Linked DNA regions of Homo sapiens: regions 1 and 2 are each linked to region 3. Evidence: fine-mapped expression QTL. A gene starts in region 3. Each other region holds a variant in brackets. All regions are shown on one strand. Distances are from middle to middle.

Region 1 (8,000 bases), 65 kb after region 3:
CCTTGGACCTGTACCACAGCAATGGCTACCGGGCCAGAGTGCGGGCTGTGGACGGCAGCCGGCACTCCAACTGGACCGTCACCAACACCCGCTTCTCTGTGGATGAAGGTGCTTTTCCTCCCTTGACTTAGAACATGGCTCTGAAGTCCCTTCCAGCCAGGAACTCTAGTCTAGAGCTTTTCTGTCTATTACCATAGCTCACCATGTCTGCCAGCCTCCCTGGCCGGAGAACTAGTTGCCCAAACAGGGCAGGACTTTGGAGAATGTTAGATAAAAATAGCCCAAGTTGTTTGAGATTTAAAAGGGAACTGGAGTTGTTTATCCTACAGAAGAGAGGTCTTGGGGTGGGTTGGGACAGCTGAGTCACCAGGTCCAGGCCTGTGAACTTGTTTTTTCAGGGAGGGTTCAGGGAGAGGAAGCGAATCCATGAACACTCAGCATAGGGCAGCAAGCAGTAGGCAGAATTTGGGTGAACGCCCCGCTTCTTTAGGGGTGAACACCCAGGGGTCATCCCTTTGAAATGGGAAGTGCTACTAAAGAGAAGTTATGGATCCCTCTCTGGAGAGGTAAGAGGAAAGGATAAGCCCCCAACTCAGTGGGATTTTTCATCCCACCAGTTGGGATTGAGAAAGTTTTGTGTGCATGGAGACCTCGCTCTGTAGGATTCAGAGTTAGAGCCGATGGTCTAGGAGGTCATTGGCTTCCAAATGCCTGCCCACAGGCCACTGCTCAGCTGGTGCAGAAACGTTTCCCAGCAAGTGTGTTTAAAATATCTATTTCCAGGGCCCAGCCTCAGAAATTCAGACCAACTGTGTCTTGAATGGGCCCAGGGCATCTGTATTTTTTTTTTTTTTAACATTTTGTTCTTCTTTGTATTTTGATTTGAGCAAGGCAATTATAAAAAGACATTTTTGAGGAAATCACCATATTTGTATATGAAATGGTTTTTAGGGCATATTACTAGGTATTTGTTTGTTACATGTGATAACAGCATGGTAGTTATATTTACAAAGGTGTGATATGTGAGAGATACATACTTACGTAATTAGGAATTAAGTAATACAGTGCTTGGGATTTTTCTTTAAAATGCTAAAGTAAATTTCATGGGGGGATATTGATGACCCTCCCCTGCCACCAATTACTTCAAAATTGGCCTAGTGTTTGCAATTACTAAAGCTGGGACTTTGGAAATCATTATATTCTCTTCTACTTTTCTGTCTATTGGAAATTTCTACATAAAAATATAATCAATGCAATTTATCACATTAACCATTTAAAAAAGAAAACAACATTTAAAAAGAAACTAAGCAAAGTTAAAGTAGAAAGAAAATGTCCTAACCTGTAGAAAGGTATCTATCTACACATATCTACCATAAATATTATGCTTAACAGTAAAGTGTTGGGCTGGGCTCGGTGGCTCACGGCTGTAATCCCAGCACTTTGGGAGGCCAAGGTGGGTGGATCACCTGAGGTCAGGAGTTTGAGACCAGCCTGGCTGACAAGGTGAAACCCCATCTCTTCTAAAAATACAAAAATTAGCCGGGCGTGGTGGCGTGCACCTGTAGTCTCAGCTACTCAGGGAGGCTGAGGCAGGAGAATCACTTGAACTCAGGAGGCAGAGGTTGCAGTGAGCCAAGATCAAGCCATTGCACTCCAGTCTGGGTGACAGAGCGAGACTCTGTCTCAAAAAAACAAACAAATAAACAAAAAACAGTAAAGTGTTGAAAACGTTTTATAAAAAAGTTTTTCTTTTAATTGACAAGTAATAATTCTACATGTTTATGAGGTACAGTGTTATGTATACATAATACATGTATACCTTGTGGAATGATCAAATCAAGGTAATTAGAATATCTATCACCTCAAATATTTAGCATTTCTTTGTGCCAAAAACATTTAAAATATTATCTTTCAGCTATTTTGAAATATACAGTCCATTATTATTACTACAGTCACCTTGCCGTGCAATAGGCACCAGAACTTATTCCTCCTGTCTCACTGTAACTTGGTACCCCTCTCCTTGTTCCCTATCCACTTCTCCCACCTGCCTCCTTCCAGCTTCTGGTAACCACTTCTACTCTCTACTTCTATGAATTGAATTCTAAAAGAATTCTACTTAGATTCTATACATAAGTGAGATCTTATGGCATTTATCTCTTTGCACCTGGCTTATTTCGCTCATGATGTCCTCTAGGTCCATCTGTGTTGTCCCAAATGAGAGTTTCCTTTTTTTTCAATTTGAGACAAAGTCTTGCTCTGTCACCCAGGCTGCAGTGCAATGTCTTGATCTCATCTCACTTCAACCTCCGCCTCCCGAGTTCAAGAGATTCTCTTGCTTCAGCCTCCTTAGTAGCTGGGATTACAGGCACGTGCCACCATGCCCGGCTAATTTTTGTATTTTTAATAGAGATGGGGTTTCACCATGTTGGCCAGGCTGGTCTCGGACTCCTGACCTCAAATGATCCACCCGCCTAAGCCTCCCAAAGTGCTAGGATTACAGGCGTGAGCCACTGGGCCGGGCCTCAGTTTCCTATTTTTCAAGGCTGAATAGGATTCTGTTGTATATACATACCACATTTAAAAAACCCATTCATCCATTGGTGGGCATTTCCATATCTTGGCTGTTATGAATAATACTGCAATGAACGGGGGATACAGGTATCTCTTCAATACACTAATTTCAATATCTTTCGATATATACCCAGTAGTGGGAATTGCTGGATCACATGGTAGCTCTATTTTTAGATTTTCGAGGAACATCCATACTGTTTTCCATAATGGCTGAGAAATTCACCACCAGCGACATGCAAGGGTTTCCCTTTTCACCACATCCTTGCCAATGCTTGTTACTTCCATCTTTTGGATAATAGCCAATCTAACAGGTGTGGAGTGGTATCTCATTGTGGTTTTAATTTGCATTTCTCTGATGATTAGAGATGTTGACCATTTTTTCATGTATCTGTTGGTCATTTGTATGTCTTCTTTTAACTGTCTATTCAAGTCCTTTACCCATTTTAAAAACAGGTTTATTTGTTTTCTTGTTATTAAGTAGTATGAGTTCCTTGTATATTTTGGATATGAACCCCTTATTCAATGAACATTTGTAAATATTTTCCACCCATTCATAGATTGTGTCTTCACTCTAGTGGTTGTTTCTTTTGCTGTGCAGAAGCTCTTTAGTGTGATGCAATCCCATTTGTCTATTTTTGCTTTTGTTGCCTGTGCTTTAGGGATCGTATCCAAGAAATCTTTGCCCAGACCAAAGTCTTAGAACTTTGCCCCAGGTTTTCTTCTGGTGGTTTTTATAGTTTCAGGTGTTACATTTGTCTTTAATCCATTTTGTGTTGATTGTTGCGTAAGAGGTGAGACAAAGATCTATTTTCATTGTTCTGTTTGTGAATATCCAGTTTTCCCAACACCATTTGTTGAAGAGACTGTTCTTTTCCCATTGTGTGTTCTTGGCCCCTTTGTTGAAAATCAATTGTGGGTTTATTTCTGGGCTGTCCATCATATTCCATTGGTTGATGCATCTGATTTTAGGGTATATGTATTTTTAATGTGCTCCCCAAGAAGTCCTTACATTCTGCTGCATTGACAAACCTGTGGCCAAGTTTTAGGCCTAGGTTCTAATTAAGCTTAATTCTGGAGGCAAAGTCTCGGCGGGGACACCCAGGCCCTCCTCAGCCCTCAAGTCTCATGGTATTCCCCCCCACCCCAACTCCATTTAGTGACTCTGACAGTTGGCAGTGTGAACCTAGAGATCCACAATGGCTTCATCCTCGGGAAGATTCAGCTACCCAGGCCCAAGATGGCCCCCGC[A/G]AATGACACATATGAAAGCATCTTCAGTCACTTCCGAGAGTATGAGATTGCCATTCGCAAGGTGCCGGGAAACTTCACGGTATGGGGTTCCCCAAGGCCCCAGGGCCAGAACTCCCTTGGCTTCCCTGTCCCCTGGGCTGGAAGCACCCTTGTGTGCCATTGGGAACTTTGCTTATGGACTAAAGGGAGGGTCTGGGATGGTGGGTGGGCAGAGGAGGGAGTAGAAACCACCTCAGCCCTCAGAGCTATGCTCTTGTGAGATGCTCCTCAAAGGAATTGCCTACTAGGGCAATTGGGCACCCCAGAGCCCTTGTAGATGAAGCAATAAGGCTCTGAGAGGCTGTGTAACCTACCAGAGGGCGCCCCTGTTATGGGAGAGCTGGCATCTGCAAAATCCACCCTCTCTCCTCTCCACCACTGTTGATTCCAGCCCCTTCTGGGAAGATCTTCAGCATCTATAAAACACCGCTTTTTCTTTTAAAATACAAAATAAAATTGTGGTCATTACAGAGATCATGTGCTGCATTGGTAATTGTGGGGTTTGTCATCTTAGACAAAGGATACTGAAGGGGGTTGGCTGAAATCACCTCTAAAGGCCCACCAGCTCTCAGTGTCCGTGTGCCATGAAATAAAAGGATTTTGTTAATTGCTATCATTTTTGTTTCAGTTCACACACAAGAAAGTAAAACATGAAAACTTCAGCCTCCTAACCTCTGGAGAAGTGGGAGAGTTCTGTGTCCAGGTGAAACCATCTGTCGCTTCCCGAAGTAACAAGGGGATGTGGTCTAAAGAGGAGTGCATCTCCCTCACCAGGCAGTGTGAGTCAGCTGGGCTGCTCTCAGCATGGGGAGGGAGACTGGGAGGGCCTGGTGCAATCCAAAACGCGTGCACCTGGGATGCTGGTGCCAGCCACTGTGTTAGGTGCTGCTTCACATAGCTCTGCATCCTTAATAGGAGAGAGGTCCTACTGTCCTCATTTTAGAGATGAGGGAACTGAGGCTCAGTATTAGCAACTTCCTAGGGTTGCACAGCTAGGACTTGGTGGCAGAACCAGGTCTCTTGGATCTAGGGTCCTCCCACTGGAGCACAGCGGTGTTTCCCAACAACATCCCCCTCCCCCGGGGCCATCTTCAGTGAGCTGTGCTAGTTCCTGTTGTTACAGTCTTCTGCTGTTCTTCCTCAGAGCCAGGGATACAAAGGGCTTCTCCTTACTTCCCCTACTCTGCTCTGCTCCTCGCCAGAGCTGCTAAAGTCAGCAAATACTGCTCCAGGCTGTCAGTCAGGTGCCGGGGCTGTAGGGGGAGGGAGATAATAGAGGACATGGAGGCCACGGTCTTGCCTAGGAGGATCTTGCATCCTGGCTGGGGAGATAGAGTGTGCACAGAGGAGACTGTAACAAGCAACTCTTATTGGACAGCAGATGAGATGTCCAGTGCCCAATGAAACATGCCAACAGTAAGTGCTCTGGGAGGGCCCAGTCCAGTGTGGGCAGAGTCTGGCAAAGGTGAAAGTGACTCCTGCTAGATCTGCAACAAATTTCAGTTTGTGAAGGACACTCAACAGCTCAGTGTCATTTAAGTCTCAATGCAGAGGAAGGCACTAAGTGGGTATCAGGCAGTCTTAAGAGTTTTTCATACATTCATTCACTGATACATGAAATAGTTCCAAATCTCAGCTTTACAACTTTTGAGGTATATGACTTTGGGCAAATTACTTAACTTCTATGTGCTTCAGGATCCTAATATGTAAAAATGGGGCTGATGATAGTATTTACCTCCTATAAGTATAAAAGTTAAAAGAATCTGATGGTATTGGTACATGGTCAGTGCTGTGTACTTCACAACTACCTTATGAGGTCAGTGGCTCTGACAGAGTAATTAATTTGTCCACAATTGCACAGCTAGTAAGTGGTGAAGCTGGGACTTGAACCCAGATCTAGCAGCCCCCGGAGCCTCGATTCTTACCTGCTGTACCATCCTGCCTCACTGTTCTGTTTGCTGTGATGGGAGTCATGTGCAGAGAGCTGGAAGCAGTTAGCGCATCTCCTGAGGGAATCCTTCAGGGCATGGTTTGGAAGGCCAGGTAGGGATTCGCAGAAACCTAGACACATCTAGAGTTGTGGCCTGTAGTTTGCCTTGGGCCACTCACTGAATGGTTCCTGACAGTGGGCAATGGATTTCATGGGACCAGAGTCCTATGTCCAGAATCACCGTGCCCCATGGTGACAGGCCACAAACACATCTCTCTGGGCCTGCAGATTTCACCGTGACCAACGTCATCATCTTCTTTGCCTTTGTCCTGCTGCTCTCCGGAGCCCTCGCCTACTGCCTGGCCCTCCAGCTGTATGTGCGGCGCCGAAAGAAGCTACCCAGTGTCCTGGTGAGTCTTGCAAGGAGGTCACTGCCCCGTCCTTCCCAGCCACACCCGAGCTTCCAGGAGGGCAGGGAGCTCTTTTCCTCCCAGCCAGTCCATTGCCTTAGCTTGCCTCTGCTCTCAGCCCTGATGTGATTGGGAGATACCTTCATCAAGCGCTGTGGGGACAGAGGGAGGAAGTGAGCATGAAGCCCAGTACCGAGAATGTTGCCATCCAGTAGCTCAGATGAGACACATGGAATCACAAATCTCAATGACCACGAGCCATTTTGATATGATCTACTAGTAGTTGGCCATGGACTAGCCCCTGTGCATTGCATCTCTGATTATGAGGCACAGTTATTATCCCCATTTCATAAGTGAGGAAACTGAGGCACAGAGAGATTGTTACACACAGAGGGCCACACAGCCAGGAAGAGTCAGGGAGGGAACCCACTTTCCTACTGCTATTAGCCATGGGTGTTCCACAAGAGAGAAAGAAGGAAAGGCCAGAAGTGCTGGTCCTCGGGCTGCTGCCAGAGTGGGCCAGAGGAGAGAGGACACTGGGGGGCGGTGGGGATGCTGCGCCACTGGAGAGGGGATGCTGGCAGGGGACAGGGAGGGGCTCATGGAGGAGGCCAAGCCCTCCTCCCCTCCCAGGGTGTGTCCTCTTGCTACATTGTACTGACAAATGATACATTTGTGGCAAGCCAGTCTCCAAAACTCAGCTTGCAAAGATTGGGCAGCATTTTCCAAACCTCGGCCTGGTCTCTGGCCTGGAGTTCAGGCCGCATTGAAGATTGCCCACCATAGCCTCCATAGCTGGCACTATTGCATGATGGCTGAGGGATCAGCTGGGAAGGAACCAGCTCCGTCTGCAAGGCAGGGGCCCCACAACTGGAAGGGGAATCTCCAGAGCGATCCTGGGATCTCTAGGGAAAACAAGACGAGAGACAAGTGCAGTGGCACAATCTCAGCTCACTTGCAGCCTCACCCTCTCAGGTTCCAGTGATTCTCCTGCCTTAGCCTCCCGAGTAGCTGGGATTACAGGCATCTGCCACCATGCCTGGCTAATTTTTGTATTTTTAGTAGAGACGGGGTGTTGACCAGGCTGGTCTCGAACTCCTGACCTCCGGTGATATGCCCACCTCGGCCTCCCAAAGTGCTAGGATTATAGGCATGAGCCACCGCACCCTGCCCCTTCTGTACTTTTGGATCACAGAACTGACTTGTCCTTGAGGGTTTTTTCTCTTCAGGATAAATATAGCTCAATCCCTTCATCTGATGATCGTAGTCATTACCACATGAATAAATTATAATGCACAGAGCACTGACACATTCATTAGTTTGTTCTCATTCATTAGCTTGTTTGATTTGATCTTTCAACAGTTCATCAAGGTAAGTATTATTGGACAAGGAAGGGATTTCAAATCAGGACAGTTGAGGATGAATTCCAGATGTGTTCTTTACTGTTGTGCCACTTTGTGCAAGTCATTTAACTTCTCTGAGCTTCAGTTTTCTCCTCTAGGAAATAGAGGTAATAATACTTCTCTTACAGAATTATTGGAGGGTAAAGTTCAATTCAACATATATTTATTGAGCACCTTCTATGTACCACACTTTGTTCTAAGCACTGTAGACACATTACAACATAAGGAGGCAGGTACTGTCATTATTTCCATGTTACAGATGAGGAACTAAAGCACAGAGAGGGTAAGTAATTTGGTCAGGGTGACAAAGCTGATAAGAGTCAGAGCTGGGATTTGAACCCAGGAAGTCTGGCTCTAGAGGACACATCCTAAATCACCAAGCAATGTGATAGGAATAGG
Region 2 (11,064 bases), 120 kb before region 3:
GTGAAGGGCGTCCCAGGTCACATGGCAGAGTCAGGGCTTAGGTCCAGGGCTCCTGACCGCCTGGCCTGCGCTCAGCTAAGTGGTGTTTACCTCCCTCCTAGGCCCTGTTGCCTTCAGACTCTTGCCCACCTTGTTCACCACTCCATCCTCAGTACCCAAGGCAGGTCTTTGATGACTGTTTGTCGAATGAAGCTATGATGATGTGGCTGGGTTGGATGATCTTTACAGTCTCACCTAGGGCAAGGGGTTCGATAAGTCTGTGAAGAGAGCTGCTTAAGCTCAGAGAAAGGAGTGGTCAGTAAAAACCAAGGTAGGATGTGAGTTGGGCTTGAGCAATGGGAAGGATATGCAGAGAGGCAGGGAAAAGGCCTCCCTGCAGGGGCTCAGGAAAGCCTGACTCTATGGTGTGTCTACCCATCTGAGACACCCACACATCTGGCACATGGCAGTTCAGAGCTGTGTCCTCAAAGACTCATCGGTCCAAACTCTGAGCTGAACTGGCGGGCTAATTGTTTGTCTGCATCAGCCAAAGTAGCTTCTTCTTTTGGCAAATCATAATCAGAGTCCTGGACTCCTACTAATAACAATGATTATAATTGAGCACTTGCTGTGGGCCCAGCACTATGCTAATTACTCCAGATGCATAATCTCCAAACAACCCTATAAGACTGGTATGATTATTATCATCCCCATTTTACAGACAGTGAAACTGAGACATAGAGAAATTAACTAAGTTGTCCAATTCACGCAGCGTCAGATGCTCAAGGCAGTCTAATTTCAAACTCATCATTCTATGTATTGACTTTGGTGGTGGTGGTAGTGTTACTGCTGTTACATTTTTTAAAGTTTGAACATGGAAAATTTCAAGAATATACAAAAGTGGGGAGAACAGTATAACGAATTATTATGCACTCATTTCCCAGATGCTACAAGAGTTGACTCATGGCCAGTTTTTTGTTTCATCTATGCTCCCCTCCCATCACCATGAATTTTTCTGAAGCAAATTTCTTGTGTTACATAATTTCATCCATTGATCATTTTGTGTGCATCTCTCAAGGATGAGGCCAAATCCTCTTTCTCAATCACAATACTTTTTGCCTCCTGACTGAGAAGTTCCTTGGCCGGGGCACCCGCTTCCCCCAAGCCACACGCCAGATTTCAGGCTAGCCACTTCCCCACACAGTGGGCACAGAGGCAACAGGCTCAGCGGGTAGCCTGTCCCCAGCTCCTCACCACACAGCCTGACCAAATGGCATCTCTCTGCCTCCTCAGAGTGAATTTTTATCGCTGAAGCCCCTGCCATCAGTCTAGTTGCTCTGCAGATGGGGAACTGGATGTGGTGGTCTGCCTGGTGGGGTTGTTGACACAAGGATGAGTCTTTCTTGACCAGGCCTGTCCTAGGCTCCAACCCTGGCCTTGCCCCAAATCCCAGTACCTACTTCAGAATGATTTGGGGGGTGGGAGATCTCCTCTGCCTGGGAGGAAATGACTCCCCACTCCGCCCAGCCTAAGAGCAAGAAGGGATGAGATGGAGCCAAGAACCTGGAGTCAGAGATTCACCGCACTTCTCATGAGCTGGGAGGACCAAGTCTCACCTTTTTGGTCTGTGGAAGTGGGAACAGAACACCGACCCTGCAGCGTGGCTGTGAATGTCTAAGGAGATGGGCAAGTTTTCTCCGCAGAGTTGTTTAGCTAGAGAAGGTCACAGTACCTGCCATGGCCAGCAGGTGTCGCCCAAAGACTGAGTATGAGAAACCTTTGGGCGGGATGGGGGCTCCTCCATGGAGATTATCTTTCAATATTAGATACAGCTGGACTTGGAAGAAGTGGAAGAAAATTCAGCCTGAAGGGTTTCTCCTTTGAAAACTCAGTCTGGTTCTGGCTTTCGTCGGAGTTAAAAATTGGAGCTTTGCAGTTTTCACCCAGGCTAGAGTGCAAAGGCGTGGTCTCGGCTCACTGCAACCTCCACCTCCTGGGTTCAAATGATTCTCCCACCTCAGCCTCCCGAGTAGCTGGGACTACAGGTGCATGCCACCACACCCAGCTAATTTTTGCATTTTTAGTAGAGATGGGGTTTCACTTTGTAGGCCAGGCTGGTCCTGAACTCCTGACCTCGTGATCCGCCCGCCTAGGCTTCCCAAAGTGGTGCGATTACAGGCGTGAGCTACCGCGCCCGGCCTGCAGTTTTCAAAGTATGCTCACATGAAGATACCACAGCAAGACAGACATCAATATCCGCATGTTACAGATGAGGAAATTGAGGCTTCAGAAAGAGAGTGACTTGCTAAAAATTATGCAGGCACTAAATGACAGAGCCATTAAGTGACAAAATATAGAATTAGAAGGCCTTCGGACTCTATATTCTGGGCAATCTGCCGACACATTCCTATGGGTCAAACCTTTAGGAGGAGTCCTGAGACCATGGCTGGGCTGTCCCTGCCCCTCTGGAAAAGATAATAGGCGCATGCCCGAAGCCCCTGGCATGCGACATGCTATCCCCTGAGAGCATTTGCCATCTCTGGGTCTCAGTGGCTCCGAAACCACACAACTACACATGCACACAGGCACAGGTGAGGTGAAGGAGAGAGAGATCCCAGACTACAGAATCCGGGATCTGTATTTTCTGTTTCCCAGTATTTGGATGTAAGAAGCTTAGCATAGGTCTTGGGGCTGGCATTTGGGAAATCCTGAACTAGAAGATAAACTAGAAGGTTTATGTTCTGTAGTTTCATAAACACTATCCACTTAAGCTTGTCAAAAACACTAATACAGTGTCTGGCACATACTTGATAGTCAACAAAAATTTGCTGAATAATAAATGGCTGAAAAACACGCAATCACCCAGCCCAGCAGAAGCCTTGGTGAACACTGCTTCATCCCTCACCCACTTTACATGTTCGCAGCACTTTGTGGCGTACATATCTCATTTACACACATGATCTCGTTCAATCTCTTTAATGAGTTGGATATCACAAACCCCATCTCACAGATGAGAAAACTGAGGCTCCGAGACACTAAAGGACTTCCCCAGGGCTGCCCAGGTGGTCAGTGACCGAGCCAAGCTCACGCCCACGCCTGTCTACCCTGCTCTAGCAGCTCCGTCACTGCCCCGCCCCTGCTTCATATCATTTCCACTGCGAAGCTTGAGAGGAGGAAAAATCCATCCAGAGAGAATGAATCTTCCAGATCCGTTGGGAATGCCTCAGATTTAGGAGAGGCGACCTCAGGAGTTTGCCCTGAGACCCCAGGCTCAGGAGAAGTCTTGCCTCATTTGGCGAAGGGGCTCAGTGCAGACCTCCAGGGTGGGGCAGGTCCTGGGAGGCCAGCTGCCGCGTCTGCACTCCTGGAAAGTGCAGTGTGGGAAGGGTGGGAGCTGTGGGAAGGGAGGGGAGCCCTCCTCCCCGCTGTGCCTGACTCCTTGGGCGTGGCTCTGATGGCTGGAGAGGACAACCCGCCTCCCTGGCCCACTACTGGATGTGTCTCTGCGGTCCTCCGCGGAAGGAAGCTCCAGGCCTCCGCACTGGGAACCTGGTGTCTGCCTCCCCCTAGTGCCACAGGACAGGATGGTGGCGCCGCAGGCTGCTGTGCAGTACAACATAGACGGCGGCCACTCAAATTCTCCACTACACAGGTCCTGCCCTTCACCCCAGTCATGTCTCGCAGTGAAGCCGGAGGCTGGGCTCACTCCCTGCCCCAGCCTGTGTCCTTGCCAGCCTCTAAGAACTACTGGAGGGGACCAATGGTGTCCTCCAAAACAGACCTCTGATTCTCAGCTGAGGAGGCTGAATCGCCGCGCAGCGCTCCAGATGCTAGGTCCACCCACGCAACCCTCCTGGGTTGCTCTGCTCCTCCCCAGTTCCAGCTCAACTAGCAACGCACAACACACACAAACTCACACAGTCACATACACACTCACACTCACTTACACATTCACATACTCTTACACACACACACCCACACACTCACACACACATTCACACATTCACACACACGCATATTCACATACACACATTCACACACTCACACATTCACACACACTCATACACACATTCACATACACACATTCCCACACTCACACATATTCAAATATTTTCACACACATTCACACTCACACACATTCACACACTCACTTACACATTCGCACACACATACACACATTCACATACATACATATTCACATTTCAATCTTGGCGCCACACTTCAATCTCTCCCTTCTCTTAATTTCAATTCCTTTCATTTTCTGATAGAGACAAAGGAGACACGTGGACCCAAAACTCCGTGGACCCAAACTCCGTGGACCCAAAACTCCGTGGACTCAAAACTCCAGCGCCCTCTGGGGGAGGGGCAAGTACCCCTCAACCCCTTCTCCTTCACCCTTAGTGGCAAGTCCCGCTTTTCTAGGGGGCAAGAACCCCCAATCCCTTATTTCCGCACCCCGACCTCTTATCTCTGTGTCCCAATCCCTTATTTCCGCACCCCGACCTCTTATCTCTGTGCCCCAATCCCTTATTTCCGTGCCCCAACCCTTTCTCTGCTTTTCTGGAGGGCAAGAAACCCCCACCCCCTTCTCCGTATCTCTACTCTTTTCTCTAGGCTTGCCTCCTTCACTATGGGCAAGCTTCCACCTTCCATTCCTCCTTCTTCTCCCTTAGCCTGTATCCTTAAGAACTTAAAACCTCTTCAACTCTCACCTGACCTAAAATCAAAGTGTCTTATTTTCTTCTGCAATGCCGCTTGACCCCAATACAAACTCGACAGTAGTTCCAAATAGCCGGAAAACAGCTCTTTCAATTTTTCCATCCTACAAGAGCTAAATAATTCTTGTCGTAAAATGGGCAAATGATCTGAGGTGCCTGACGTCCACGCATTCTTTTACACATCAGTCCCTTCCTAGTCTCTGTGCCCAGTGCAACTCGTCCCAAATCTTCCTTCTTTCCCTCCCGCCTGTCCCCTCAGTCCCAACCCCAAGCGTCGCTGAGTCTTTCTAATCTTCCTTTTCTACAGACCCATCTGACCTCTCCCCTCCTCGCCAGACCAAGCTAGGTCCCATTTCTTCCTCAGCCTCCGCTCCTCCACCCTGTAATCTTTTTATCGCCTCTCCTCCTCACACCCGGTCTGACTTACAGTTTCGTTCTGTGACTAGCCCTCCCCCACCTGCCCAGCAATTTACTCTTAAAAAGGTGGCTGGAGCTAAAGGCATAGTCAAGGTTAATGCTCCTTTTTCTTTATCCCAAATCAGATAGCGTTTAGGCTCTTTTTCATCAAATATAAAACCCCAGCCGAGTTCATGGCTCGTTCGGCAGCAACCCTGAGAAGCTTTACAGCCCTAGACCCTAAAAGGTCAAAAGGCCATCTTATTCTCAATATACATTTTATTACCCAATCTGCTCCCGACATTAAATAAAACTCCAAAAATTAGAATCTGGCCCTCAAACCCCACAACAGGACTTAATTAACCTCACCTTCAAGGTGTACAATAATAAAAAAAGTTGCAATTCCTTACCTCCACTGTGAGACAAACCCCAGCTACATCTCCAGCACACAAGAACTTCCAAACGCCTGAACTGCAGCGGCCAGGCGTTCCTCCAGAACCTCCTCCCCCAGGAGCTTACTACAAGTGCTAGAAATCTGGACACCAGGCCAAGGAATGCCTGCAGCCCAGGATTCCTCCTAAGCCGTGTCCCATCTGCGCGGGACCCCACTGGAAATCGGACTGTTCAACTCACCTGGCAGCCACTCCCAGAGCCCCTGGAACTCTGGCCCAAGGCTCCCTGACTGACTCCTTCTCGGCTTAGCAGCTGAAGACTGAGGCTGCCTGATTGCCTTGGAAGCCCCGTAGACCATCGCGGATGCCGAGCTTTAAGTAACTCTCACAGTGGAGTGTAAGTCCATCCCCTTCTTAATCAATACGGAGGCTACCCACTCCACATTACCTTCTTTTCAAAGGCCTGTTTCCCTTGCCTCCATAACTGCTGTGCGTATTGACAGCCAGACTTCTAAACCTCTTAAAACTCCCCAACTCTGGTGCCAACTTAGACAACACTCTTTTATGCACTCTTTTTTAGTTATCTCCACCTGCCCAGTTCCCTTATTAGGCCGAGATATTTTAACCAAATTATCTGCTTCCCTGACTATTCCTGGATTACAGCTGCATCTCATTGCTGCCCTTCTTCCCAATCCAAAGCCTCCTTTGCGTCCTCCTCTTGTATTCCCCCACCTTAACCCACAAGAGACCTCTACTCCCTCCTTGGCGACCAATCATGCACCCCTTACCATCTCATTAAAACCTAATCACCCTTACCCCACTCAATGCCAATATCCCATCCCACAGCAAGCTTTGAAAGGATTAATGCCTGTTATCACTCGCCTGCTACAGCATGGCCTTTTAAAGCCTATAAACTCTCCTTACAATTCCCCCATTTTACCTGTCCTAAAACCAGACAAGCCTTACAAGTTAGTTCAGGATCTATGCCTTATCAACCAAATTGTTTTGCCTATCCACCCCATGGTGCCAAACCCATATACTCTCCTATCCGCAATACCTCCCTCCACAATCCATTATTCTGTTCTGGATCTCAAACGTGCTTTCTTTACTATTCCTTTGCACCCGTCATCCCAGCCTCTCTTCGCTTCACTTGGACTGACCCTGACACCCATCAGGCTCAGCAAATTACCTGGGCTGTACTGCCACAAGGCTTCACAGACAGCCCCCATTACTTCAGTCAAGCCCAAATTTCATCCTCATCTGTTACCTATCTCGGCATAATTCTCGTAAAAACACACGTGCTCTTCCTGCTGATCGTGTCCGACTAATCTCCCAAACCTCAATCCTTTACAAAACAACAACTCCTTTCCTTCCTAGGCATGGTTAGTGCAGTCAAAATTCTTACACAAGAGCCAGGACCGCAC[A/C]CTGTAGCCTTTCTGTGCAAACAACTTGACCTTACTGTTTTAGCCTAGCCCTCATGTCTGCGTGCAGCGGCTGCCACTGCTTTAATACTTTTAGAGGCCTTTCCTACAAGGTCTGAGAAGGCCACCACAGTCATTTCTTCCCTTCTGTCAGACATAATTCCTCAGTTTAGCCTTCCCACCTCTATACAGTCTGATAACAGACCAGCCTTTATTAGTCAAATCAGCCAAGCATTTTTTCAGGCTCTTAGTATTCAGTGACAGACTAATGGTCTATTAAAAACACACCTCACCAAGCTCAGCCACCAACTTAAAAAGGACTGGACAATACTTTTACCACTTTCCCTTCTCAGAAGTCAGACATGTCCTCAGAATGCTACAAGGTACAGCCCATTTAACCTCCTGTATAGATGCTCCTTTTTATTAGGCCCCAGTCTCATTCCAGACACCAGACCAACTTCGACTGTGCCCCAAAAAACTTGTCATCCCTACTATCTTCTGTCTAGTCATACTCCTATTCACCGTTCTCAACTACTCATACATGCCCTGCTCTTGTTTACACTGCCGGTTTATACTGTTTCTCCAAGCCATCACAGCTGATATCTCCTCGTGCTATCTCCAAATTGCCACTCTTAACTCTTGAAGTAAATAAATAATCTTTGCTGGCAGGACTATGCTGAATCTCCATAGGCACTCTCTAATTAAATGTCCTAGGTCCTCCCAATTCTTAGACCTTTTATACCTGTTTTTCTCCTTCTCTTATTCCATTTAGTTTTTCAATTCATACAAAACCGTATCCAGGCCATCACCAATCATTCTACATGACAAATGTTTCTTCTAACAACCCCACAATATCACCCCTTACCACAAGACCTCCCTTCAGCTTAATCTCTCCCACTCTAGGTTCCCACGCCACCCCTAATCCCGCTTGAAGCAGCCCGGAGAAACATCGTCCATTCTGTCTCCATACCACTCCCCCAAAATTTTCACCGCCCCAACACTTCAACACTATTTTGTTTTATTTTTCTTATTAATATATGAAGGCAGGAATGTCAGGCCTCTGAGCCCAAGCCAAGCCATCGCATCCCCTGTGACTTGCACCTATACGCCCAGATGGCTTGAAGTAACTGAAGAATCACAAAAGAAGTGAAAAGGCCCTGCCCCGCCTTAACTGATGACATTCCACCATTGTGATTTGTTTCTGCCCCACCTTAACTGAGTGATTAACCCTGTGAATTTCCTTCTCCTGGCTCAGAAGCTCCCCCACTGAGCACCTTGTGACCCCCCTTCCCTGCCCACCAGAGAACAACCCCCTTTGACTGTAATTTTCCATTATCTTCCCAAATCCTATAAAACGGCCCCACCCCTATCTCCCTTCGCTGACTCTCTTTTTGGACTCAGCCCGCCTGCACCCAGGTGAAATAAACAGCCATGTTGCTCACACAAAGCCTGTTTGGTGGTTCTCTTCACACGGATGCGCATGAAACTTAGTTCATAATTGGCTAAGCCAGGGCTCAAATCCAGGTCTGCTGATTCCAAAGCCTGTGACCTTAGCTGTGAGGCCAAGGAAGAAGGGATCACGCACACCTCTGACCACCCCAGCTGCCTACCCTGACCCCACAACTTCCTTGCTCCTGGAGGCATGGAGCAGGGACAGGGGTGGTCCACCTGGTTGGTAATCAATCACTCATTCATTCCTCTACTCAACCAGTCACGTGTGCACTCAGTAAACATGTATGGAGGGTGCACTAAGTGCCCAAAGGGGGGTGAGGCACTGGGATCGGTGGGTGAACTTTCAGATGCAATCCCTCCCTCATGTAGCTTATAAGCAGTGGGGCCTCAGATGTGAAGGCAAAGCTCAGAATTCAGGGGATTCAGGGTCCCCTGGCAGGTGCCCAGGGTGCTAGAGAGAGCAGGTCAGGAACACTCTTGAACAGCGGAGGCCCAGCCTGGCTCGTCCCCCTCCTGCCCCCTGGGGCGGGTGTCTGCGGCCTCCAGGCTACTCCTGGATGATTTTATTAGCTGTGTTGGGAGCATATGGTCCTCGGACATGAGACCTGAAGTAGTATTTACTGGAGAGCCGAGGACACCGGGTTCCCGTGTGGGCTGGGTTTGGCACGCACTCGGTTACTGATTGATAGGCCATTCAGGAAACAAAGACCACAAGAGAATTCAGCATGCTCCTGGCTCGGGGCCAAGCCAGCCTCATCTCCTTTGCTTTGTCAAGTGTGTCTTTTTGTCTGCCTTCATCACTTGCTGGGCGCCTCTGTGTTCACTGCCGGGAGGAAGCCAAGTGTGTATTTGCAGGGGCTGTGGGGGTGTATCCAGCTTTTCTCTAAGAACAGCTATCCAAGGGGCGGGAGGGAACAAGGGGGTCAGCCACAGCTCTCCCCTTACCCCTTCCCCTGAAAAGTCACAGCTCCTTGACGTGTGAGCTGAAGCTTGGGACTTTTGTCTTGTGTCTGTTTTTTCCAAAGCCAAGTCCAGAGACAGACCAGGGCCTTCCCAAGGTCACACAGCAAGCCAAGGGCAGAGCTGGCAGTGAAACCAATTTTCCACCTTCCACGGTGTGGTCTGCACTGAGCTGCAGGCAGGGCTTCCGGGGCCACAAATTGCTTCCCCAGCTCAGAACATTGCCCTCTTCTCCCCTCCCTGCTGCCCTGCTCACCAGGGGGAATTCCTCTCAGTGACACCAAAGAAGCCCTTTGGGGAAGTGACAGTGAGCATTTCTTGAAAAGGGAACCAAGTTTAGACATCTAGAGACAGTAGCAGCCGCGGTGACTGGCGGCCTCCTGGGGCTGAGGAACTTCGGGGTGTCACTCAGGGTGACAGCAGGTAGCCCAGCAAGCCCATAGGAGCAGGACAGGCCAGGCTGGGCCTCCACTGTTCCAGGACTGTTCCTGACCTGGTGTCACCTGCACCCTGTGAAGGGAAGCTCAGAATTCAGGGAGACTCAGGGTCCCCTGGCAGGTGCTCTGCCCTGGTCTCCCGCCCTGCCAGGGGACCCTAAGTCTCCCTAAATTCTGAGCTTGCCTTCACATCTGAGGCCCCACTGCCTACAAACTGAAAATGAAATCTGCCAAAACGGGTTGGGGAGCTGCCACTCCTGAACATAGCTCGTCCCAGTCCCTTCTAGGCATGAGGTCCCTCCACACCTGGGGGAGACCCTCCCCCAATCTCCCAATGCCACCTTCTTTGCCCCTCCAGTGTCAGGTTGAAGCTCTGGGAATGAACGTTTGAAGTTCTAAACAGGATTTCTTCCCAAGTCCTCAGTCACTCAACGGCAAACTATGAAGTGTCCCCAGCCTGTGAGGCTCCTCCTGCAGCCAAAACTGGGAGGGGGCACTGAGTCTGGGCCCAGGCTTTCTTCCAAGGCTAGGACACTCGGGCCCTTCCGTGGCTCTCCCAGTGCAGCCCTGGGCTCAGCACTGCCCTCCCAATGTCCCGGAAGGAGGCCGCTGTGGCCCTGGCTCCGAGGCCCAGGCCCAATCCATCTTCCCAGCCAGTGACTCGCTCTGACAACAGGGCCGAGCTGCCGTGGCATTTGCCTCTGATCTCCGCTGGCCAGGCATTTGTCAGGCAGCCTGCTAGGAATGAAGAATGGGCGCTTGGTGAGGCACAGATTACCCGCCCCAGAGGCCCCTGATGAATTGCAGTTCAGAGCTCAGCTGCCTGGGGCCATGGATCAACAGGGAGGCGACTAATCTCCCCCACAGCAGCCCTGCCGAGCAGAGCGGAGGGAGGGTGGAAGCCTGGAGAGTCTGGGAGGAGACGCTACACCACCCCCTGCCCTGGGCCTTTCTTCAGCACAACACCCCTCACGCCCTCCACTCCCACCCGTCTGTCCAGGGAGCCCACTTCCTTCACTAGACGCAGCGCCAGTGGAGACGCTCAGTTCTTTGGGGGCACCCCTTCCTTGCTCCCTGTACAAGAGAGAGAGTTCGGAATTGCTGGGGGGGTGGGGTGGAGATTTCTCCTGATGCCCCAAAGCATTTAGAAAAACTGGAGGCCCATGCCAGGGGCACCCTCACCCTGGACAGGAGATCAGCCTGTAGGAGCTAGCGATCGGCCTGTCTGAGGCTCTTCTTCCTCTGATGGGGAAGTCCAGGCCACCCAGCCAGGAAGTGCCTGCCAGAACCCAGCAGAAGCCCTCCTGCC
Region 3 (11,301 bases):
AGGGACTAAACCCAAGGCCCCCCACTTCCAGCCCAGGGGTCTCGACACCACAGCTCCCAGGGTTAGATCCCCCCTGAGGCGAATGGGATGTTTTTCTGGTTTCCAGTTGCAGACTCTGCCCCTTGGGCCGTTACCTGGTGGGGATGGTAGTAAGTTAGCCAGCCCCTGAGTATGTCCAGCTCTTGTCCTCTCCTGGACCTTCTGGGGGCCCAGCCAGTGAGAGAGGGGGCCTGAGTGATGTGGGCTCATGGTTGCTTCATCTCAGTGGTTATGGAGCTGCTGCTGTGGATCGAGCCCCAGGCTCTGCATAATGAGAGTTCTTCAGCCATAAGCAGCAGCCTGAACTTGGGAAATATGCACTTCAGGTCCCCCAGAGCCTGGGCTTGCAGTGTGAACCACCCTATAAAAAGCTCTCCCGCAATTGAACAATGAGAACACTTGGACACAGGATGGGGAACATCACACACCAGGGCCTGTCGGGGAGTGGGGAGACGGGGGAGGGATAGCATTAGGAGAAATACCTAATGTAAAGGACGAGTTAATGGGTGCAGCACACCAACACGGCACATGTATACATATGTAACAAACCTGCACGTTGTGCACATGTACCCTAGAACTTAAAGTATAATAATTAAAAAAAAAAAAAAAAAAGCTCTCCTTCTAGTCCTGAAGAATGTCCAGCAGGGAGCAGTAGCTGCTTCATGGCCTGAGGGCGGGTGCATCAGGGCCCGTTTCAGTCCAGTTTAAGCCAATTGGGCCTCCCTCCTCAGCCCTGGGCCATCCCTTCGTAAAGCTACCACCCAGGGTTGGGCATATCACAGGCTGTCAGAGTTGCAAAGATTCTGAAAACCCTCTAAGCTGGGCGTGGTGGCGCCGGCCTGTAGTCCCAGCTACTTGGGAGGCTGAGGTGGGAAAATGGCTTGAGGCCAGAAGCTGAAGACCAACCTAGGCAACATAGCAAGACCCCATCTCAAAGAAAAGAAAAGAAAAGAAAAGAAAACCTACCCAAGCCCTTTATACTATTGTTGAGGCGATGAAGGCCCAGAAAGGCTGTGTGACTTGCTCACGGACACACAGCCAGGTGGGGACGGTGCCAATTCTAGAACCATGATCTTCTGGCCCCCATCCTTGGGCTGTTACACAACACTCTGCTCTTCCCCTCTCTGTCCCTTACCAGCCTCCATGAGAAAGGACCCTTCCCAGACAGAGGCCCCCGTGGCAGCGTCCCTTTTCCAGTGACCCTGGGCATCAAGGGCGCCCATAGGGTGGGCACGGGCAGACCATGGGCCAACAACCCAGCACTCTGGGCTAGGCAGGAAGAAAAACCCCTCACTAAACCCTTCTGGAAGCACTGGCGGCACTGAGAAAGATCAGGATCTCCCTTTGACAGAGCCTAAAAACCCTCCTTGCCTGTTGGGAACCTGGGGAGCCCTGGGGTTGTGGCAGGGGAGGCCTGAACCCTTCCCAGCGAGGGCCCGGCTGGACTGGGTGACTTTTTTCCCTTTCTCACGGCTAGACCCAGGCTTCACTGTACCTCCAGGTTCCCAAGGCCCTTTCCTACTCTCCCCCTCCCCGAACCCAGAGAAACCCCACAAATACAGGCTCTCCTCAGCACACAGGCATCTTCCCCACCACCTCCTCACCCAGCACCAGCATCTCCAGCACACACGCAGTATACAGCTCAGGGACTTGGGTCAGCCCTTGAGGCAGACTGAACTCTGGAAGGGGCCAGAGCTGCAGGGTCTGCCTCGCCCTGGGGGTGGGGGGCACGGGGAGCCTCGCTTCTGCTCCTAGGCCGCCGTGTGACCTTGGGGACAGTCACATCCTTCTCTGGGCCTCAGCTCCCTCTTCAATAAATTAAGGGTGTTGGACAATCAGCAGTTTTCAAACAGGGTTCCACAGAGCATTTCAGTTTCCGTGGAGGTGCCTTGCAGACCAGCTGGTGGGGACTGTGGTGGGCTCTGAGCCCTTACCCCACCTCAACAGAGAAGACCGACCTTTCAGTTTCATACAGCGGAGTCAACATAACATTCATTTGAACAAAAGAGGCAGCTGCTACAACGAACTTGAAAGGGACTGGCCAGAGTAAGTGCTGAAGTCCCTTCTAGTTTCCGATGCCTCCTGTGCACATGAAAAAGCTCAAGGAATCCCTGTTAGACCAGAATCAAGACGCCTCCTTGTTCATTCATTCGTTCATTCACTCATTCATTCATTCATTTATCAAATGCTGTAAAGAACATGGAGTGCCCACTATTGCCCAGCAAATAATGTTTGATTGCCCAGGAACTTGCTGCCTCAATGTTTCCCTGTGTCTGTGCCTTCTCTTGCTGCCAGTCCTAGGGTAGTGACACACTCAGGGCTGGTACATAATGGGGGCCCCTCTAAAGTTTTGGGTATTGCTTCCCTCCTAGGGAAACCAACCCCCATCTGGTGCTGTCAAGGCCTCCACTTGACGGCTAAAGCCAGGGTTCCCTGTGGTGGCTTCCCTCATGCCTGCACCACCAGTGCCCTGCCCACTTGGCCAGGCACATCCACCCTTGTTGTTGCTATACCAAGAGGAATCTGTTCTGCCAAAACAAGACACTTAAGCTAAGTGGCCATTGTTACATCAGTTGTCCTTCCCACCCAGCTCCCCAGCCCAGGGCCCAATACACACACTCCCGCACGCTTACGCTCACATCTGCCAAGTCTCAGGGGACAATGCAGGGGAAATCGAGGTGGCTGTGCCAAAGGAAGTCTGCTCCTCACCAATGACAACATGAAACAGAGGACAAGGTGAGGGCTGCACACCTGCAGGGGCACAGGGCAGGTACCAGGGTCCTTGGAGGACGAGGTGAAGGCTGCACACCTGCAGGGGCATAGGGCAGGTGCCAGGGTCCTTGGAGGACGAGGTGAGGGATGCACACCTGCAGAGGCATAGGGCAGGTGCCAGGGTCCTTGGAGGACGAGGTGAGGGCTACACACCTGCAGGGGCATAGGGCAGGTGCCAGGGTCCTTGGAGGACGAGGTGAGGGATGCACACCTGCAGAGGCATAGGGCAGGTGCCAGGGTCCTTGGAGGACGAGGTGAGGGCTACACACCTGCAGGGGCATAGGGCAGGTGCCAGGGTCCTTGGGGTGCCTGGGGCTGGGATGGGGCTGGGACACGGCATGGCAGAGTGACTTGACCCGCGGGTGAGCCATCTCAGGAACTGCCCAGCTCCTCTGGAAAGGGTGCCTTATCCTGGACCAGCGGTGGGCCCCCAGACGGTTCTCACCAATCCCTAGCACCTGTGGCCTTGGGCTAATTTGGAACCTGTTCCACTTGAAGAAGGCCCAGTATAAGAAAATCCACTCCACAAAGGAATGTTGCTTCATCAATGGGTCTAATTCAGTCTTTCTTTAATAAGCATTGCACTGCTCTGAGAATTAAAAATGAGAATTGAAAAAGCACAAAATACGCATTGTCAAGAACAAATCTGGTGTGGCGCACCTGTCATCCCCGTTCTATGTAATTCCAGACTGTCAGGGAGCCAGAAAGGAGCCTCAGGGGGGAATGTGTCCAACCCTCTTCTTTGGTGGGGAAGCTGAGGCACAGGTAGAAGAAGATGTTTGTCCAAATTTATAGGAGCCCACCCCAAATTCTAGGCAGTGATGATAAATTTCAACATTCTCTGACTCCATCTCTATCTATCTATCTCTATCTCTCTATGCCAGATGCTATTCTAAATGAGCCTTACTATGGGAAGGACACTATTTTGAGACTCCTTGAGGTAGGTATTATTAAATTAAGCTTAGCCTAAAGCTGCCTCCTTACATATTTTAAGTTCGGATCAAAAGGTTTCTCTGTACATAATGAACTATAACTCAACTGGACGTGTAAACAGACTGTAAACTACTCTTGTTAACAATCACCAATTTTGCACAATCAAAGGCAGCCAACTGTTCAAACAGTGTTCAAATAAGGCTATTTCTGTACCTCACTTCCTTTTTCCATACACTGCTTGCCTTTTTCTGTCCATAAATCCTCTCCGACCACGCAGCTGTGTGGGAATCTCTCTGAATCTATTCTCCTTCGGGGGACTGCTCCATTTGAGAATTGTTCTTTGCTCAATTAAACTCTGTTAAATTTAGTTTGTCCAACATTCTTCTTTTGAGAGTAGTATTATTATTCCATTTTACAGATGAAGAAACTAAGGTACAGAAAGGTGAAGTGGCTTGCCCAAAGCTGACGGGGAACATGGTCAGTTCTCTGTCCACCACGACATGCAACTTTCTTTTGAATATGAGAAACTGAGACCCTTCTCCACCTCTTTTCCAAGATCCCTCTGAAGATCCAGCAGCTGACAGAGGAGTGCCATCAGGCTCAAGCCCACTGGCCACCATCTTCCTCACGACATTTTGGAGTTGAGGGACAGAAATCACAATGCATCTCTCTGCAATAAAGCCCTCAAGGAGAAGGCACAAGCTCAGGTGACCAGCTTCTCCCAGACCACTCCTATTTAATCAAGGTTAAGAAACCTGCTGCAGATGGGAATACGAGCCCCAACTATAGGCTCACTCTCTCAGAGTTCCATCTTAAATAGGGGAGTGAAGTTAAGAACCTTAAATAAGAATGTAATGATTCCATTCTTCCATTCCAAGGTAAGTTTGGACAATCTTTTTTTCAGAATGAATATGGCACCTATCATAATATTTGACACTTAATTCATAGATTAATTGGGAGTTCCTCAAAGAAGTCTGTTCTCTGTCCTGTATCCCTCCAGCAGCCTTCATGTTGATCCCTGACTCTGAAGAGATGAGCTTCCTGGGAAGATATCGCCCCATCACCCTGTCTCAGGGATGGACTATCCATCTCCAGTGGGAGCATGGCCACCCTCCGGATAGCTCAGCCCTTCTCACTCTTGGGTTTAGGGACCATCTAGTTTAGGCTCCCAGCATATTGCCAAGGAGGATGCCCCATGGCTGTGACTAAGGGTTCACCTTCTGCATGCCCTTGTGTACCCCCCTTACTGCTCAACAGTAAGAGGCTCTGATAACCCCCCAAGGCCTAGGGCCAAGTGACTTTGGTGAGGTAGAGACATGAACGAAGGAGCCCAGAGCAGAGGGCAAGGGAGGCAGCCTGGGAAAGAAAAGTCAAGAGGGGGCTGGAAGAATGGTGGGAAAAAAATGATGGTAAAGTTTGCAGAAACACATTGGGGGTGCAGAATGGACCACAAGCCAACTATAAGCCAAAACATAGGATGAGCTGATCTTTCCCAAACCCAGTGCTAGCCCATTCTTCCCAGAGTCCCAGGCTCTACCATGTCGGTAAGGTACAGAGAATTTGGAGGGGGCAGAAAACAAGACCTAAAGGAGAAATGAGAGCACAAAAGGGATTTCCTGGAGGAAAAGAAAGTGGAGGCACAGCAGAACAAGATCTTTGGAAGCCTTCATGTGTGTATGACTGGCTTTCCCACAGAGGACAGGCCAGCTGCTTTCTCCTACCCCAAGAGCAGCAGAAGAAAGGAAGTTGAGTGGTAGCAGGACTTGTGGTTAAACATCAAGAAGCACTTCCCAAGCATGAAAGTTATTAAGTCCAAAAAGAAGTGACCAACGGAGGTTGAAACATCCCCTTGAAAATCTTGAATGCACCCAGAAAGTCACAGTTTTCTGGGAAGGTTTAGGAGTGTAGTGAGGGGTTTAGACAAGATGCCCCTGAATTGCAGTTAGAATGCTTTTGATTTTCCAACCAGCAAAAATGAGATTAAAGTAGATTAGCCTGGATTCCCAATCGGCAAAGTTGGTGCTGTAACACTATGGATGCCCGGCAGGAGTGCTCACAGACCACAGAGCAGGAAACCCACGACTCAGCCACATAGCCCTGGGGTGCTCACCAGCCAGACCCCAAATCCCAGCAGCTTCTCCTCCCAGGGGCTTTTTCTAGAACCACGTTAAAAGGAGACCAAGAGATCTTGATCGTAAGTAGCTTCAAACTAGAAGAGGCACAGCCAGTTTCCCCCAAACCTGAAACACAGAGGTAGCTGTCCCACCTGTCTCCCAGCCTCAGCCCTGCTTCCTCAGCGCTGGGAGAATCTGGCCCGAGGCCTGAGGTCACACTCACCCCGTGGCTGTCCCTCTCCATGGTCTCTGAGGGGAAGAGTCCTCCAGGCTTAGCTGATGTCGAGGAGAAGATCCATCTTGGTCCCTGGCTTCTCAGGCATGTAGGGTAAAGGAGTTGGAGGGCCAAGGGCCAGCCCCCACCAAATGGGGCGGGGAAGCCGGTTGGGACGTGTGAAGTAATCCCCAGTATAAACAACACAGAACTAGCCAGACCTGTTCCTCTGCCCCTCATCGAGGCCATCCCAGTTACTCAGCGAATACCAAATTCCAAATACCGGGAACCTGAAGCTGCCTTTACTCATGAAACTGCCCCCACAGAAGCAGAGGAGTGTTCTGAGCTACTTCTTCAGAGGGGCCCTGAGAGAAAGGGCAGAGCCTTGAGAGGATGGTCTTGGTCCTGTTGACCTGAGCCCCTGAAACAGATGCTCCAGAGCCTTCTGAGGGATGACCCTATCCCCACAGGGGACGTTCCAGGCCAGGGGCAGAGCCCCACCTATGGCAGGACAGTGGGAACCTTCATCTCCAAGGACCAGGTGTCCAAATCCCAAATCAGGGCACATGGTCTCTGGGCGCATGGTCTGGCAATTGCTTTCTCCTGAACTCTGTTTGTTTTTATGAAACTCTTAACAAAGAAATGAAAATCAAATGACCTTTAATTATGCACATCATGAATTGCCCTCTATTGAAAACAATAAAGTGCCAGAAGCAACACATCAAAGTCAATGAAATAAAACATAACTATCTGAATGGAAACTGTTCCAAGAAACATTGGGCTGACTCGTGATCCCAAACCTATACCCTATTCTGATCCTCAGAGTCAAAAGAAGTAAAGGAAGGGCTATTGCAAAAGGAGTCCTTAGCACCTCCGGCTAAGTTCCAGCTGAGCTGCTGCTGAGAACTGCAAAAAAAAAAAAAAGAAAAAGGAGTTCCTGTTGAGGTTTGGGAAGAACTTTCTTGAGCATTCAGAGGCACCAAGATTTTTAGAGTTTGAAAGAAGCTCATGGATCTTTAGTGGTTCACTCTTTTCATTTTACAGACTGCGAGACAGAGGGCCAGAGAGGCTAAGGAATGTGCTCAAGTCACACAGCAAACAACAGCAGCAGCAATAATCTTAAGATGCCAAGAATCCTGCGAAACACTTCACACGCATCCTTCACGTGTTCATTCAACAAATATGTATTGAGTGCCTGGCATTGCTTTAGGTGCTGGGGACACAGGAACAAAATAGGCAAAGCCTCCTGCCCTGTGGCTCTAGTATTTGCGGGTTGGGGGGAAAAAGCAGACAAAAATCAATAAATCAGTTACACAGCCTCCTAGAAAGTGAAAAGTGCCGTTCACAAAAACAAAGCAGCGAAAGGATCCAGAAGGTAGGGGAGGCAGAGTCCTGGCAGTTGGGAACAGGATGGTCAGAGAGGGCTCTCTGTGGTGACATATTTGAGCAAAAACTGAAAGGAAGTGACTACTATCGCCCCCCATTTACATTCAAGAAAACGGAAACTTCTAGCTCACAGTGGAAACTGTGCCCCAGCTTAGGGTGTCTTGAGGGAAATCTAACCCAGAGGCAAGAGGCTGGAGGAGAGAACTCTGGAGGGCCCAGGCAGGGACCCTAGAGTTCTCTCATCTTGGCTTATTGTGGGAGCCACTTCCCTGGCTTTCAAAGAGAGCAGAATTCAGCCACAGGCCACATCCCCTTCCTGCCCCATCCACCAGCCCACCATGACAAAGGGGCCCCTCCCATCCATCCTCCTGAGAAGATACCCACCTCCTGTCCTCAGCTGCTCCTCTTCCCTCTCTCCCAGGGAGGAGCCCAGCCCCTCTCTGGCTGCCACTGAGCCCTGGCACGCCCAGGCCAGATCCGAGGGCCTCCACTTCATCCCCCAGGCAGGCCACTGGTCTCCGAAGGGCACCCTCAGCCTCCTTCCCTGAAGGTCCCACCAACCTAGGGAAAGAGCTCAGGCTTGGGGGTCTGGGCGAGTTCGGGGGAATGAGAACCCTAACTCTGAGGGGAACTCGCAAGGCCTGACAGGTTCACCATCGGGAAAATGAGAACACATAGAACCAGAGGAAGTGCCTGGCACGGGGCACAGGGCACTGGGAAGGCTGGGAAGGAACATCAGTTTCACCTCTTGCTCTTTTCCTTGGTTTGCATCAGAGACACAAGTTGGCCTGTCCCAGAGTCCTCGCTGACAAAGCAGTCTGACCCGTGTGACATCCCCACCAAGGGCAGTTCAGTTCAGCAAGGATTGACTGCTCAGCACCAGGCCCACGGTGGCTGCTGGGGAGTGAGAGTGGTGGGCAAAGAACAGAAAGGCAGGGGCCCTGCCCTGGGAGAACACACAGTTGATGTGTTGGGGCGGGTGGCGGGGGGACACTGAGGAATGAAATTCCTAGCTGGTGGTTTTCCTATTTTCAGAGTGAAGGCGCTGCGGCAGCACAAGACCTGGATGCTTCCCCCACAGAGCTGGACTTAGAGGCCTGCACCGCTTTTGACTTCCCCACTGACCCTGGCCTGGCCCTTTCCTTCCCCCTCCTCCCGGCCTCCTTTGCTGTCCTCCTGACTGTACAATCCCAGGCTCTCTCTGACTCCCACCCTTTCCTTTGCCTCCTTCTCTCTGGCCTTGGTCCCTGGCTTTCTCCCTTCAGCTCCCTGGTTGCCTTCTGGAAAGACACCTGCCCACCTCTGGCTACTCCACACCCAGAGGCTATTGGCAGCACCTGGGACCCACCTTCTGCTCCCTCAACGCCCCAGGGAGAGTGTAGGCCAGCCATCAGGCCCATTTGTACCCTGGTCATTTCCTACCTGGGTCATTTCCATGTGGAGTGAAGGGAGTTTTACAGAAAAATGTCAGCCATGCAAACAAGCACACATCTCCTGGCAGCTGTCCAGGAGAGTGAGGTGTGAGAAAATCTCACTACTGTTTTGAGACTAAACTCCTAGCTCTCTGCTTCCATGGCTGTTCTAGCTACCACTACCCCAGTGCCTTGGGAACTCCTTCCTGAGGCTCCAGCCTGGGAAACAGAGCTCTGGGCCTTCTATTCCCAGCCTTGTTATCTTCCTTGGAGTTCCCACCTCGGGCCCATGTTCCTCCCTCCTGAGCCTATCAGCAGCTTCACCCCTGAATCACCTCCCAACTCCCTGCTTGGAGCCCTTGCCTACCCTTCCCCACTTTGCACCCCGCTTCTGAGCTTCTCCACCACTCTTGGCACAATAGGTGGGTTTCCCTCCAGGCCTGAGGGCAGCCAGGAAACCAACTACATACTTAAAGACTCAGTGTGGCAGAGGGGAGACACTGGGTCCACCCTCAAGGGGGTGAGTCACCAGGAGCCACCCCTGGGCCCAGCACACCTAACGCTCCTATGGTCTGTACTGCCCCACCCCCCAAGCCCAGCAGTCTTCCCAGCTGCAGCCCCAGGCAGGTCTCTTCCGCCCCCACTTAGCCTTCCAGGGCCGTCCTGGGTCCCTCCAGGCTGTGGTCCTAGCCGTGCCTCTCCCCACTCCAGGCCTGCAGAGGTTGATCGCCATTGAGTTCTGTGGACTAGAGGCTGGTTCTCTCTTCCTGCTTTTCCCTTGGGGCTGGACATCAGTGATCAAGTGAGGCACTTGCCCAGGCTGCACAATTTAAGAGCGTGCCCAAATAATCAAGATAAATCATGTTTTAATGAAATATTTTTAAAATCTGCATTAACGGGAAAAGTCCAAGGTGAATAAAATATCAGAATTTTAAGTAAAGACAGGATCAGCTTTCCATCTGGATTTTGTCTCCCCCTTTTATTACTCACATGTTAGCAGGGCCCCATTTCCCCTCGTGATTATTCCTTCTACTTTCTGCAGGATATTGTCCCAGCTGCTCAAAACATCCAGGCCAACCAAGAGCAAGGAAGGCCTCTTCCCAGGGGGTGAGCTCCCTCTCTGCACAGAGCAGACCTGAGCCCTAGAGAGCTGTTGTCTTCACTGTGAATTTCCACCCTGAGTTCCTTCTTTTTTGTGCCGTATTACTTCATTTTTGGTCTTCCATGAATCTGCATGGCTTACATGTTCTTTGTTGTGGCTGAACAGGAGTCCTCAGAATTAAGCAAACTGGTGCCTGCCTGACCATTTGTTGAACATGGCACTTGCTACCAATCTGTTCTAAGATTTGTTTTTTTAAATTAACAATGCATCAATAATAAGTTAACAATTAAATGAAGGCTGACAAATGTGCACACCTGTGTAACCATTATGACAATCAAAATCTAGAACATCCCCATCACCCCAAAAAGTTTCCTCCCACCTCTTGCAGTCAATTCTCCACCCCATCCCAGCCCCAGACAATCACTGATCTGCTTCCTGTCACTAGAGGTTAATTTTCCCTTTTCTGGAATCTCATCTAAATCTCCCCTAAGATTTAATGCTGAACCCTGAGCGCAGCCCAGCCGCGCCACTGCCTCAGGACTCACATCAGGTGCTAGGTCATCCAGATATGATAAGAGGAGGCCAGATCATGTGGAGAGATTTTTTTTTCAAGCCAAGAGAAAACAGCCCATGAGTCCATACCGAGTCCCTGGTCCCCAGCTAGCCTCTCAGCAGCTCTAAGGGAGGCTCTCAGGGGACTCTGCTGGTGGGGCAACTCTAAGGTTCCCTATTTCCAGCAGATACTGGGCTTCTCCCCTGGATAAAGAGGAAAGAGGAGGGAGAAAGGACTGGGACACCCGAAGGGGAGGCCAGAAGATAAGTGTGGGCAGGAAACCAAAAGACCACCTGATGACTCCCCAGTAGGCCTGTGGTTCAGACAGTCTAGGATCTTAAACGCAGGGGCCCCAGGGTTTCTCTTAGTCATGGAGTTTACTGCCCCTTTGTGTCTTGTTCAGGGCAACAGGGGGCAGAGTGGGACAAATCCCTGCTCTTCTTCTGATAATCGGCATTCCTGTCATTGCATGATCCACACCCCATGATTAAAGGCTGGGTGCAGTGGCTCACGGCTATAATCCCATTACTTTGGGAAGTTGAACTAGGAGGATCGCTTGAAGCCAGGAGTTTGAGACCAGCCTGGACAAAGTGAGACACTCTCTACAATCAATCAGTCAATCAATCAATCAGTCCAATTAGCTGAGGGCAGTGGTGCATGCCTGTAGTCCCAGCTGCTCAGGAGGCTAAAGTGGGAGGATCCCTTGAGCCCAGGAGTTTGAGGCTGCAATGAGCTATTACACCACTGCACTCCAGCCTCGGCAACAGAGCCAGACC

Alleles and levels. Alleles are on the strand shown, and positions count from the first base shown. SD is a standard deviation of normalised expression in the study named. Not every link is listed here.
In carriers of allele C in region 2, the expression in lung of the gene that starts at base 6,197 in region 3 tends to be higher than with A alone (small effect, 0.20 SD a copy in GTEx).

What was found. PIP is the estimated chance that this variant, and not a neighbour inherited with it, causes the effect.
Region 1: its variant is fine-mapped to the expression of TMPRSS13 in whole blood (TOPMed, PIP above 0.99). The same link has a PIP of 0.9 or more in blood mononuclear cells.
Region 2: its variant is fine-mapped to the expression of TMPRSS13 in lung (TOPMed, PIP above 0.99).

Annotation. Positions count from the first base shown.
Region 1 is chr11:117,989,513-117,997,512 of GRCh38, forward strand. It overlaps IL10RA (interleukin 10 receptor subunit alpha), which reads left to right. Exons shown (of 7, transcript NM_001558.4): 3 at 1-108; 4 at 3,729-3,898; 5 at 4,487-4,637; 6 at 6,077-6,198. Among named protein-coding and RNA genes, the nearest start is that of IL10RA, 7.1 kb to the left of the region's middle. RefSeq lists an enhancer at 5,069-5,238. The variant A/G (reference allele first, on the strand shown) is at 3,820.
Region 2 is chr11:117,805,941-117,817,004 of GRCh38, forward strand. It overlaps a transcript of DSCAML1 not described here. Among named protein-coding and RNA genes, the nearest start is that of FXYD2, 13 kb to the right of the region's middle. RefSeq lists enhancers at 3,466-3,535, 3,586-3,635, 7,870-8,447, 9,237-9,316. The variant A/C (reference allele first, on the strand shown) is at 6,910.
Region 3 is chr11:117,923,206-117,934,506 of GRCh38, forward strand. It overlaps TMPRSS13 (transmembrane serine protease 13), which reads right to left and starts at 6,197. Exons shown (of 13, transcript NM_001077263.3): 1 at 6,082-6,197. The coding sequence starts at 6,102. RefSeq lists enhancers at 8,880-9,419, 9,058-9,187, 9,420-9,958.